Homo sapiens: one gene and its partners. The protein of the gene in region 3 interacts with the protein of the main gene of each other region in a biochemical or structural test. Each region holds a gene or a part of one and is shown on either strand. Other genes may lie near its edges. The genes, in order: CARD11, GRIP2 and ZNF599.

What was found.
Region 1: the proteins of ZNF599 (region 3) and CARD11 interact in a test that uses a peptide from one of them, tested with the Homo sapiens proteins (one large-scale study listed by IntAct).
Region 2: the proteins of ZNF599 (region 3) and GRIP2 interact in a test that uses a peptide from one of them, tested with the Homo sapiens proteins (one large-scale study listed by IntAct).

What each region holds. Positions count from the first base shown.
Region 1 is NC_000007.14:2,911,268-2,914,921, forward strand, and holds part of CARD11 (caspase recruitment domain-containing protein 11), read right to left. Parts: intron 2,200-3,654; coding exon 2,020-2,199; intron 1,030-2,019; coding exon 905-1,029; intron 1-904. UniProt on the Homo sapiens protein: Adapter protein that plays a key role in adaptive immune response by transducing the activation of NF-kappa-B downstream of T-cell receptor (TCR) and B-cell receptor (BCR) engagement.
Region 2 is NC_000003.12:14,488,534-14,492,055, reverse strand, and holds the end of GRIP2 (glutamate receptor-interacting protein 2), read left to right. Parts: 3' UTR 1-2,949; downstream 2,950-3,522.
Region 3 is NC_000019.10:34,760,313-34,763,287, forward strand, and holds part of ZNF599 (zinc finger protein 599), read right to left. Parts: intron 248-2,975; coding exon 1-247. UniProt on the Homo sapiens protein: May be involved in transcriptional regulation.

The DNA of each region.
Region 1 (3,654 bases), on a different chromosome or scaffold from region 3:
AGCATTCTAAGCATGCAGCTCAGTGAATTTCACAAACTGAACGCAGTCTAGCACTCGTGTCTGGAGGTGGGAATGACCCCCCTCGCCCAGGGTCTCCTTGGGCCTCCTGCGGGGCCACTGCTCCCCATTCCCCACCAATAGGACCATGGCCCACATTTCTACAGCACAGATCTGCTGGAAGGCTTCTTCTTTTCAGCTAAAAACAATCTCAGCTCCAACCCTGTCTGCTCACTTTCTATCCACGCCAGCTATCAGAATTTCCTAAACTGCTGTGGCCCAGACTTAAAAAAAACAAAAACACCACCATCTGCTCTTGCCATCCCCAAGGTCAGCGTCCACCACGGAGCCAGCCCCCGGCAGCTGGGGGAGCCCTCCAGTGACGCGGACAGAGAGCCTTTTCTTCATCCAGTGCTGGGACGAGGAAGAGCTCAACGCTTAGGTCACATTGTCTGGCTCCAAAGACTCCACATTGCACACAGACAACCTTTTTGCATCGTTGCCAATAACCCTTGTGATGCCCCGTTTTCCCCTCGTTTGGTGAATGCAATACCTGTCACCTTCATGTTCATCCTGTCTCTCGCCCTGATGAGCTCGTTCTCTATCTCTGGCCCTTGTTATCACAACCAGACACACACACTCCTAAATAATGCGAACACACACCAGCTCCAGGAAGCCAACACAAATAGAAAGCTCCAAAATAAAAACTCACTTCAGAGCCCAGGGAACAAGGGTGCAGAGAGGGAGTTAACACGGGGCAGCTGCTGGGACAAGGGGAAAAGGAGAGGTCTGGCCACGGGGAGGTGAAAACAACTCTTCATCCCACCCTTGTCCCTGGCCCAGGTGGCCTCATGAGGATCATCACGGAGGGTCCTGGCCCCATCCAACCTCCCAGTCCCCGCCTCACCTTGGCGGCCACAGCTTCAATGTTGGCAGGGGCGATGCATTCGAACGCGTTGGGGTTCTTCTCTCGGGAGTAGATGATGGTCTCCGTCTTCTGCCTTCTGAGGAACTCATCTCTTGTGACGATATCTGCAGAGAGAGGGGCCAGTCCTGAGGGCAGCACGAGGTGGCCTTGGGTTGACCATCCCACTCAGGCCCTGCCTGCCACCTTCTGGGCTCTACAGAACTCGATGTCCGATCCCCTTCCAGCCATGTTTAAATGAATCTCGTCTCCCCTCGACTAGACTGTGAAGCTCCTTGAGGGCAGGGCTAAGGTTAACCTTCTCCATACTCCCCATGGCAGCCCATAGAGCAGGTGCTTGGCACCTCAGCAATACCTTTCACTGGACAAAGCAGCTCAGGCACCGTGGTGCAAGGCTGATCACCAGTCTAAATAAATCTCCTGTTCCACCCACCCACCCACCTACCCATCCATCCACCCACCCATCTACCGACCCCTCACCCACCCACCCATCTGTCCACCTACCTATCCACCCATCCACCCATCCCCTTATCCATCCATCCATCCATCCATCCATCCATCCATCCATCCACTCATCCATCCATCCACCCACCTATCCATCCATCCATCCATCCATCCATCCATCCATCCATCCATCCACCAATCCATCCACCCACTCACCCATCCACCCACCCATCCTTCCATCCATCCATCCACCCACCCATTTATCTATCAATCTGTCCACCCACCCAGTCACCCATCATCCATTCAGCCATCCTTCCATCCATCCATCCACCTATCCAGGGGGAGGAGGGGTGATGGGGAGGAGGAGGAGGGAAGAAGAGGGAGGAGGGAGGGGAGGATGAGGAAGAAGAAAAGGAGGGGAGGAAAGGGGAGGAGGGAAGTGAGGAGGGGGAGGGGAGGAGTGAGAAGTTGGAGGAGGGAGAAGAGAAGAGGGAGAAGGGAGGAGGAAGGAAAGGAAAGAGGGAAGAGGAGGAAAGAGGGAAGAGAAGAGGGGAGGAGGGAAGAGAAGAGGGGAGGAGGGAAGAGAAGAGGGGAAGTCGTCCTGGTTCATGGCTCCCGCGGGGCTCCCCAGGTGGCCGTGGCTCGCCGCTCACCTGACTTGCAGATGGTGAACTCCATGGCACCTCCCGAGTTGAGCAGCCTCTGCACCAGCGTCTTGGCCAGCACGGTGGGTGTGAAGAGCACGGGCCGGCGGCGCTCGCAGTAGAAGGCGCGTACCAGGCTGTAGGGGATGAGGCTGAGGTTCTTGCCCAGCTCGCTCTCAGGGTCCAGCTCTGGCAGGGGCAGGAGAGGGTGGCGGTCAGACCCCTGGGGCTCCGAAGACCTTCCACGGAGGACGGGGCCCCTGGGCTGGGTCCTGGAAGCCACCGTCAGTGTGAAGGCCTGGCTGCTGCCCCGGGCATCCAGTGTCTGAGGTCACCTCGGGCTGGCACTGCTTGGGGCTTGTGTGCCAGGGAGGGGAGGTGTGGTGGGGGGCAGGCAGAGTGTGTGACAAATGCAGGAACCTTGGCTGAGCTCTGGAGGGAAAGTTTGCCTTGTCAGACGATCAAGGAGGGCTTCTTGGAGGAAGGGTAGGGACTGGGTACAGCCCAGCGGAGGGGAGGGCGAGGGCAAGGAAAGCAAGTGCCGGCAGGCACCCACGAGACACCAGGACCAGCGGCCAAGGCCTTGGGTGTCTCCCAGGAGCACTGGGAGGGACGACTTGGCCTCAGTTCTGCTTTCTCAGTCCCTCTGTGGCTGGAGTGGCAGAGCCACACAGAAGCCCGGGGTTCTGATGAAGCCACCCCCAGGCAGCCCGAGGAAACAGCTCCCAGAAACGGGCAGCCTGTCCCTTGTCCCTTGTGCCTTTTCTTGTACCCTGGCCTGGCCACTCCAACGTCCAAAGGGCCAGCCCGGGAAGCCGCCCCAAGGCCTCCTTTGAGATCCAGCCAGGGCTGTGTGGCTTCCCTTTCCCTGAGCAGGGCCAGCCAGGGCCAGCGGGGTGGGGGACGGTGGACCGGGAGGCCCCTCGCCGGGTTGATAAATGGCAAGTGGCACTCAGTGGGTAGAGAAATCAATAAAACGAACACTTCACAGCAAACAGCCCCAATTAACACGGGTACCCGGGAGCGAAGCAACCACACGAGAGCGTCGTTATTGGGTGAGCTTGGCGGGATGTCACCCCGAGGCAGCATGGTCCTCACAGCCAAGGCCAGGCTCCCTCACCGTTTTAATTTCTTTTTGTCTTTTATTTTTATTTTTAGAGCTAGGAGTCTTGCTGTATGGCCCAGGCCAGAGTGACTGCAGTGATGTTATCTTGGTTCACTGCAGCCTCAAACTCCTGCTCAAGTGATCCTCCCACCTCAGCCTCCCAAGTGGCTGGGACCATAGGCACGTGACACCATGCCTAGCTATTTACATATTTTAAGATTTATTTTTAATGCTTTATGTTTTTATTTTAATGTTTTTATATATTTTATAGTTATATATATATATATTTATTTATTTATTTTATTTTATTTTTTTTTCTGAGACGGAGTCTCGCTCTGTCACCCAGGCTGGAGTGCAGTGGCGGGATCTCGGCTCACTGCAAGCTCCACCTCCCAGGTTCACGCCATTCTTCCGCCTCAGCCTCCAGTGTAGCTGGGACTACAGGCGCCCGCCACCGCGCCCGGCTAACTTTTTGTATTTTTAGTAGAGACGGGGTTTCACCATTCACAGGATGGTCTCGATCTCCTGACCTTGTGATC
Region 2 (3,522 bases), on a different chromosome or scaffold from region 3:
CCTGCCCACGCTGTCTCCTGGAGGCCTGCCTCCCTTACCCCTCCCCTCCACTTCGCTGGGCTCTGCCCCTTGGTGCCCTCCCTGAGGGCCCTGCATGCTTGTGCCTGGGGTGCTCAGCGCCTCTGCTATCTTGGATTCCCGTGTACTCAGCCCAGAGTGAAAGGGCACTGTCTACCTGTCACAGGGCACCAAGTGAAAGCCAAGAGCCCTCACTTTTGAGGGTGAGGGACAGCACAGCAGAGGTGTGGCTTCTGGATGCAAGCAGCCATAGCTGTGTGACCTTGGACAGGTGGCTCAGCCTCTCTGGACCTCTGCTAAGCAACAGGGCTGGACAGGACACACTCTCAGGGCCTCTCGGCTTGGGAAAACTGCATTGACTCCAGGACTCCAGGCGAGGGAAGATGCACCCGACTCTAACTAATACCCCCCTCCCTCCTCGGGCTGAGGCCTCTGCCATTCTCCCAAAAGTATGCAATCAGGCCCGCGGTGGGCCTCCCAGCCATGCCGGCCTCCTCATATGCAATATTTCTTCTGGCTTCTCATGGGGATGGTTCATCCCCGACTTGAAATTTCCTGACACCTTTCCCCAGTGAGCGCCCTGCCTGCCTATGCATTTTGGGAACAGCCCCTGTGACATGTCCCCTTCCACCTGCCCTCTCCCCCAAAGCTGTATTTTTCTCTGGCTGAGATTAGAACACATTCCTTGTAAAGTATTTTTCTACATCGGGTTTTCTTAGGGCTCTCGGGAAGCACAAGGGGCTGTATTGCAAAGGCCGCTTATGGTCTGTTTGGGGCCCTCGTCTAAGTCTTTGTCCCACCAGGGGTTGCAGTGGCTTGGGGGTAGGTGCCATGGGGATGATTTTTTAAAATAAAATTATTTAAATCCACCTAGAGTAGAAGTTTGCTTTTTAAAAAAATCATGGATTGGCAAGAGTCAGCTTCTGTATGGGTCTGGTGACATCTCACCTGCTTTTGATGATTCATTAATTCAAAAAGTTTGCCATTTGCTTCCATCATCCAGCCCCTGGGCAACATGAATCAGACAGATTTAGGTCATGTCTGCACATTCTGGTGGCAGGCAGACAATCAACAAGTAAGCAAATAAATAATTATTTCAAAAGGCATCAAGTGCAACAAAGAAAACAAGGGAGTAACGGGATAGAGGGACCAGGGTGAGGGGCTTTAGCTCACAATATTAGGAGGGGTTTCTCTCAAGAGGCGACATTTGCAATGAGACCTGAAGACAGGAGCCAGCCTCCATGGAGACCTGGAGGAAGAGTGTCTCAGGCAGCGGGCACAGCTAGTGCAAAGGCCCTGAGATAGGAACGAGTTTGACGGTCTCAAGGAAGAGAAAGAAGGCCTGGGAGGGGAATGGGGCTGGAGACTAGGTTGGAGGTAGCAGGAATCAGTCGTGAAGGCTTGGGTAGGGGGAGCAAATTTGATTCTCTGCGCAGCAGAAAGCCAGAGGCAGGCAGTGGTGCCTGCATATGGAGTCTCTTTAGCCCAGGTTGGGAAGGTAGTGGCAGGAGGGCAGCCTCAGGTCTGGCTGCTGCCCTGGAGTGTCCAGAGAGTGTCTAGGGCAGGTGAGCTACAGGGTCTGGGACCCAGAGGCCAGGGCCAGGCCCCACTGGGGAGGCCACAGTTCTGTGAGCAGAGGAAGAGCTTCTTTCCAGGAAGCGAGTACTCTGTCTTGGGAGTGGTGTAGGCAGGGGGAAGGCCAAGGGAGGCAGCAGGCCTTGCTCTAAGCGCTTTGCAAGAGCTTGCTGGATCCTCCCAATAGCCTTTGGAGGTGGGCTCTATTCCTGTCCCATCATTACAGATGAGGAAACAGGCACAGAGAGGTTACGTAATTTGCCCAAGTCCACACAGGTAGTAAGGGATGGAACCAGGGCTTGAACACAAGCCACATGGCCCAGTACACATAGAGAGAGGCAGGCAGGTAGGCATAGGCTGTCAGAAAGAGCCAGAAAATGGGGGTAGGGTGGTCTTCTATTCTAACATTGTCTATAAATGAGTTACTGAGAATTTTGTCTGGTTAGTTGGGCAAAGGGCTCAACTGACTCCCGAGTTTGTCCATCCCAAAGGGTGGGGGGCGCTGTTGGCAGGAAGGCTGCCCCAAACATGGACCTGTTGTGACCCCAGAGAGCCCCTAACTGGGTATTAATGAGCGCCTGCACCTGACGGTGGGGGAGTGGGAGAAGGGCAATCAGGTTTGCTCCCCCTCTACCCTTTCCCCCACTCCGCCACCCGCTTTCTGCCCTTCTGGCAGGTCAGCCCAAGGCTAAAGAGGAGGGACTGAAAGCCGCAGCAGGTGAGCACCTAAGGCCAAGAGCATCACCTCCAATCATCCTGGTGGCCTTGATGGGGACAATGGTTTATTCCAGATGGGGAAACTGAGGCTCAGGTGACTGCTGCCAGATCTCCCAGCTGTACAGGGCTGGGCATGTAGCAGGTAGAATCAGTAGAGCCAGTAGAGCCAAGAGCTCATGGGCCCGGGTGCGAATCCAGGTTCTTTCATGGACTTGCTGTGTACCCCTGAGTGAGCAAGCTGCTTCCTCTGTGAGCCTCCATGTGGGAACCTCTAACCTGGGAAAATACCTACCTTTGAGGAGCGTCCTGGGATTGGACGGGAAGCCCTTTATAAAATGTAAAGCGTTTGGCAAACGTTGAGGGGGAAATACCTCACCAGAACACAACCCACACATGTTGGATGTTAAAAAGGAAATGTTTATTTTCATGTTATAAGGTGATTACAAACTCCTCTAAAAAAAGCAAAGATGAATTTAAAATATTGATATACATATTTATCTAAAAAGCAAAAGAGAAAAAAACCCCTGCAAAATACAGGGAATCATATCATAAAACATTTATACACAAAAGCTTGTATACTGCAAGACTGAACTACACACCAAGGATCTTGTTCAAATACAAATGTTCCTCCTCAGAAAAGTCTCTTGTTGGTTGATTTTTTTTTTATAAAAGTTTAAAATATCTTAAAAATATTTTGAAGTTTTAAAAAAATGTCCTGATGAGCCAGACATATTTCTGGAAGGAGGCAAGACCCACATTCTCAGCTTTCTCTTGTGCTAAATACAGAGTCACAGTTGCTAGGGATTGGGAGATTAATTGGGTAAAAAAAAAAAATGAAGCCAACATCTCAATTTGAAGTCAAATATATAACAGGATGCTCCATCCCTCGGAGAACACGCCAGAACATGTCTGTAGTGACACCCACAAGAGAACAATGCAAAAATGCTTCCTATTACAACAATATATATTCTGAGGATCAGGGAGAGAAGGAAAGGGGGAGGGCTGCCCCCTGCTTTCTGGACTGCCCACCTCTACAAGTTTGGCTCTCTGGGTTTGTTTTGTTTAGTCTTGTGGTTTTGTACTTCGATTTTTGCACACAGTGGTATTTACCGTGTCCCAGGCAGCCTGGCCTGGGACCACATGGGTCTGAGGGAGGGATGGGACCTCAGGCCACCTTGAAGGATTTTCTCTTGGGTCCTTTCCTGGCTTGTG
Region 3 (2,975 bases):
AGACTATCATCTGGCTCCAAATCATCATGTTTATAACTCAACTTCTCAGGGCATATCTCTTTGTGGGGGTTTGTTCCTGGCCTCAAGTTCCCTTCCTGAATTTTTATTAGCTTTTCCTCATCTCTAGCTTGCCCCAACCTGGAATCTCTTGAGGATCTCTGTGCCAGAAGTTCCTGGAAAGAGGATTCCTCAGAGAAGGCCAGCTGAGAAGCAGTAGGCTCTGTAATCTTGGGTTTTGCTTTTTCACCTGAAGGAAATCCAATATAAAAAAAACTGAACATTAGTGATGTCAACAGAACAAACAAAATCACCACTTTAGCAGAAGAATGAAGGTGAAAACAGTGTCTCTGATGCCTACTGCATTTTTACATCTCTCAAAACCAGGCTTGCAATTTCTTTCCTAATGCTTGGACTCTTGAGATCTTTAAAAGGAAACCCAGAAGGAAAAGCAAGGGCAGGGGGCAAAGAATCTGGAATGGAGACCGCTCCTCACTCTCCCAAATGAGGGAGAGTGGGCAGACTAATAATTACAATGTGTGTGATGAATGTGCTCTGACAGAGGCAGTCTCATGGTGCTATGACAATGTAGGGAGGATACACTTAACATGGCCCAGATGAGAGACAGAGAGGGATCAGAGGATGTCTTGGATCACAGCACCAAGAAAAGGTGAGCTACGTGGGCTTTCTTTAAAAAGGAGAGTAGGAGTTCCCAGACAGAGGAATTAGGAGGGAAACTTCGGCAGATGAAAACAGAATGTACAAGGGCTGAAAGTCTTGAGAGAATGCTGATTGCTGAGTAATGTAAATGGGATGACATGATGGAGATGAGGATGGAAAGGCAGGCAGAGACAGAGAAGAAACAGACTCTCAGGATTCTCACCTGTGTAAAAGTGAGAAGGGTGAGAACCAGCTAGATGAACATAATGAGTCTGCAATGTCTGAATAAAGACTAAGTGAACATACACAAAATAGGTAAGATCTACATGAAGAAAATTGTAAAACTTAAGACACTAAAGATCTATATGAAAAGAGATTAATCAATATAAAGTTATCAGTTCTCCCTAAATTCACTTCTAAATTCAATACAACATCAGATAAAATCTCAATAGGGTTTTTCACAGATATTGACAAGCTGACTGTGGATAGAGATCAGTCAGCTGATATAGAGACCAGGATAACTCTGAAGAATAAAGCAGGGGCCTTACCCTATGAGGACTTAGTATTATGATGAAACTATATGCATTCAGGCAGTGTGATTAGGCATAGATATAAGACAAACGGTGAAAGGGAAAAATGAAATAGAGAACTCAGAAATGTATATATGTAACTTTGATATATGATAGAAGCAGCAGAGAAGGCCATTGGGAAAAGGAGGAACCATTCAATAAATGGATCTAGAAAAATTATTTGCCACATGGAGAAAAATGAAATAATATTCCTACCTCATACCACATACAGAATTACCTCCAGAGTGATTAAGACTCAACTGTCAGAAGCTAAACATTAAACATATTTTGTATATAATAAAAATGAGTATCTTTTGAGAAAGATTTCCAGAACAAGATATAAAAGCATTAATCATAAATGAAAAGAGTAGTCAATTTGACTAGAGTAAATATAATAAACAAAAAAGCAAACAAATAAAAAACATAACATTAGTATCAGATAGCAAACTATAGACCTAAGCAAATGAGACAAAGAGGGACTTCACAAGATGAAGAGAAGACCATGGCGCCAGGAAGACAAAATCGTCTTAAATCTGTATGTGCCAAACACCAGAGCCTCAAAATACATGAACCAAAAACTGAGTTGAAAGGAGAAATAAACTCAGAATTATGGTTGGGAACTTCACTCTACCCCAAAATGAACATATTATGCACTGATATTTCACAGAAGACATACATTGCCCAGTCAACATAAGAAGTGTTCACCTTTCTTGGTAATAGGGGAAAAACAAATTAGGACCACAATGAGATGCCCCATTTTATACTCGCTAGGTTGAAAAAACTAAAGGACCGGACAACATCAACTATTGAAGAGGAAGTTGTTCTATGAAATCATTCAGATAAGGCAAGGGAAGTGAAATGGGTATAACCATTTTAGGAAACAACAGAGCATTATCTAGTAAAATTCTCCTTTTGCTCATCTTATAATCCAGAAATGCCAGTCCAAGGAACTTTACTAAGAGAAACTCCTATAGATGTGCCTGAGGACACATATATATGAATTATGGCAGCATTGTTTGTGATAACAAAAAACAATAAGCAAACATTTTCAAGCTCTCCCTGAAAATGGATAAATACATTGTGTTATATTCATGCAATTGACTCTAGCAGGAAAAAAAATGAGTGAACTACAGCTATATGCATCATGAATGTTAGTAACTTACTGTTGAATAAAGAGTGAAAATGCCAGAAGACAATATAAACCACAATACACTTTTTATAATGTTCAAAAAAAGCAAAATACACACACACAAGAATACAATGTAACAACCTTTTATTTTTTTGAGGTTTATCAGTTTTAAATGGCATTATAAAAAGATATGTAGATATGTTAAATATATTTTTCTGACTTTTTATTGTGATAAAATACAAAATTTACCATTATGAGATGAAACAATCTTAAAAAGTAATGGGAAGACAAAGATAAAGTAGGCAAATATTTTACATTACTCAAATTACCAAAACGGACAAACAAAAACAGAACATCTGAATAGCCTATATTTATGAAAAAAACCTGAATCTTCCTACAGAATAAGCAATGGAATAACAAATCTTAAAGTGGCCATGTATGCAAGGGAGGCAGCATAGGAATGGGAAAGGAAAGAAACACATCAACAGATGCAGGAAGCAGGTCATGTTCTTGTACTTGGCGAAAGGTTTGTAGGTGTTCATTACAATCTTTTTAAAGGAGGATGAATAAATATATTAATAAAATGCAATGAAAGAAAATAAAACAAAAAACCAGGACAC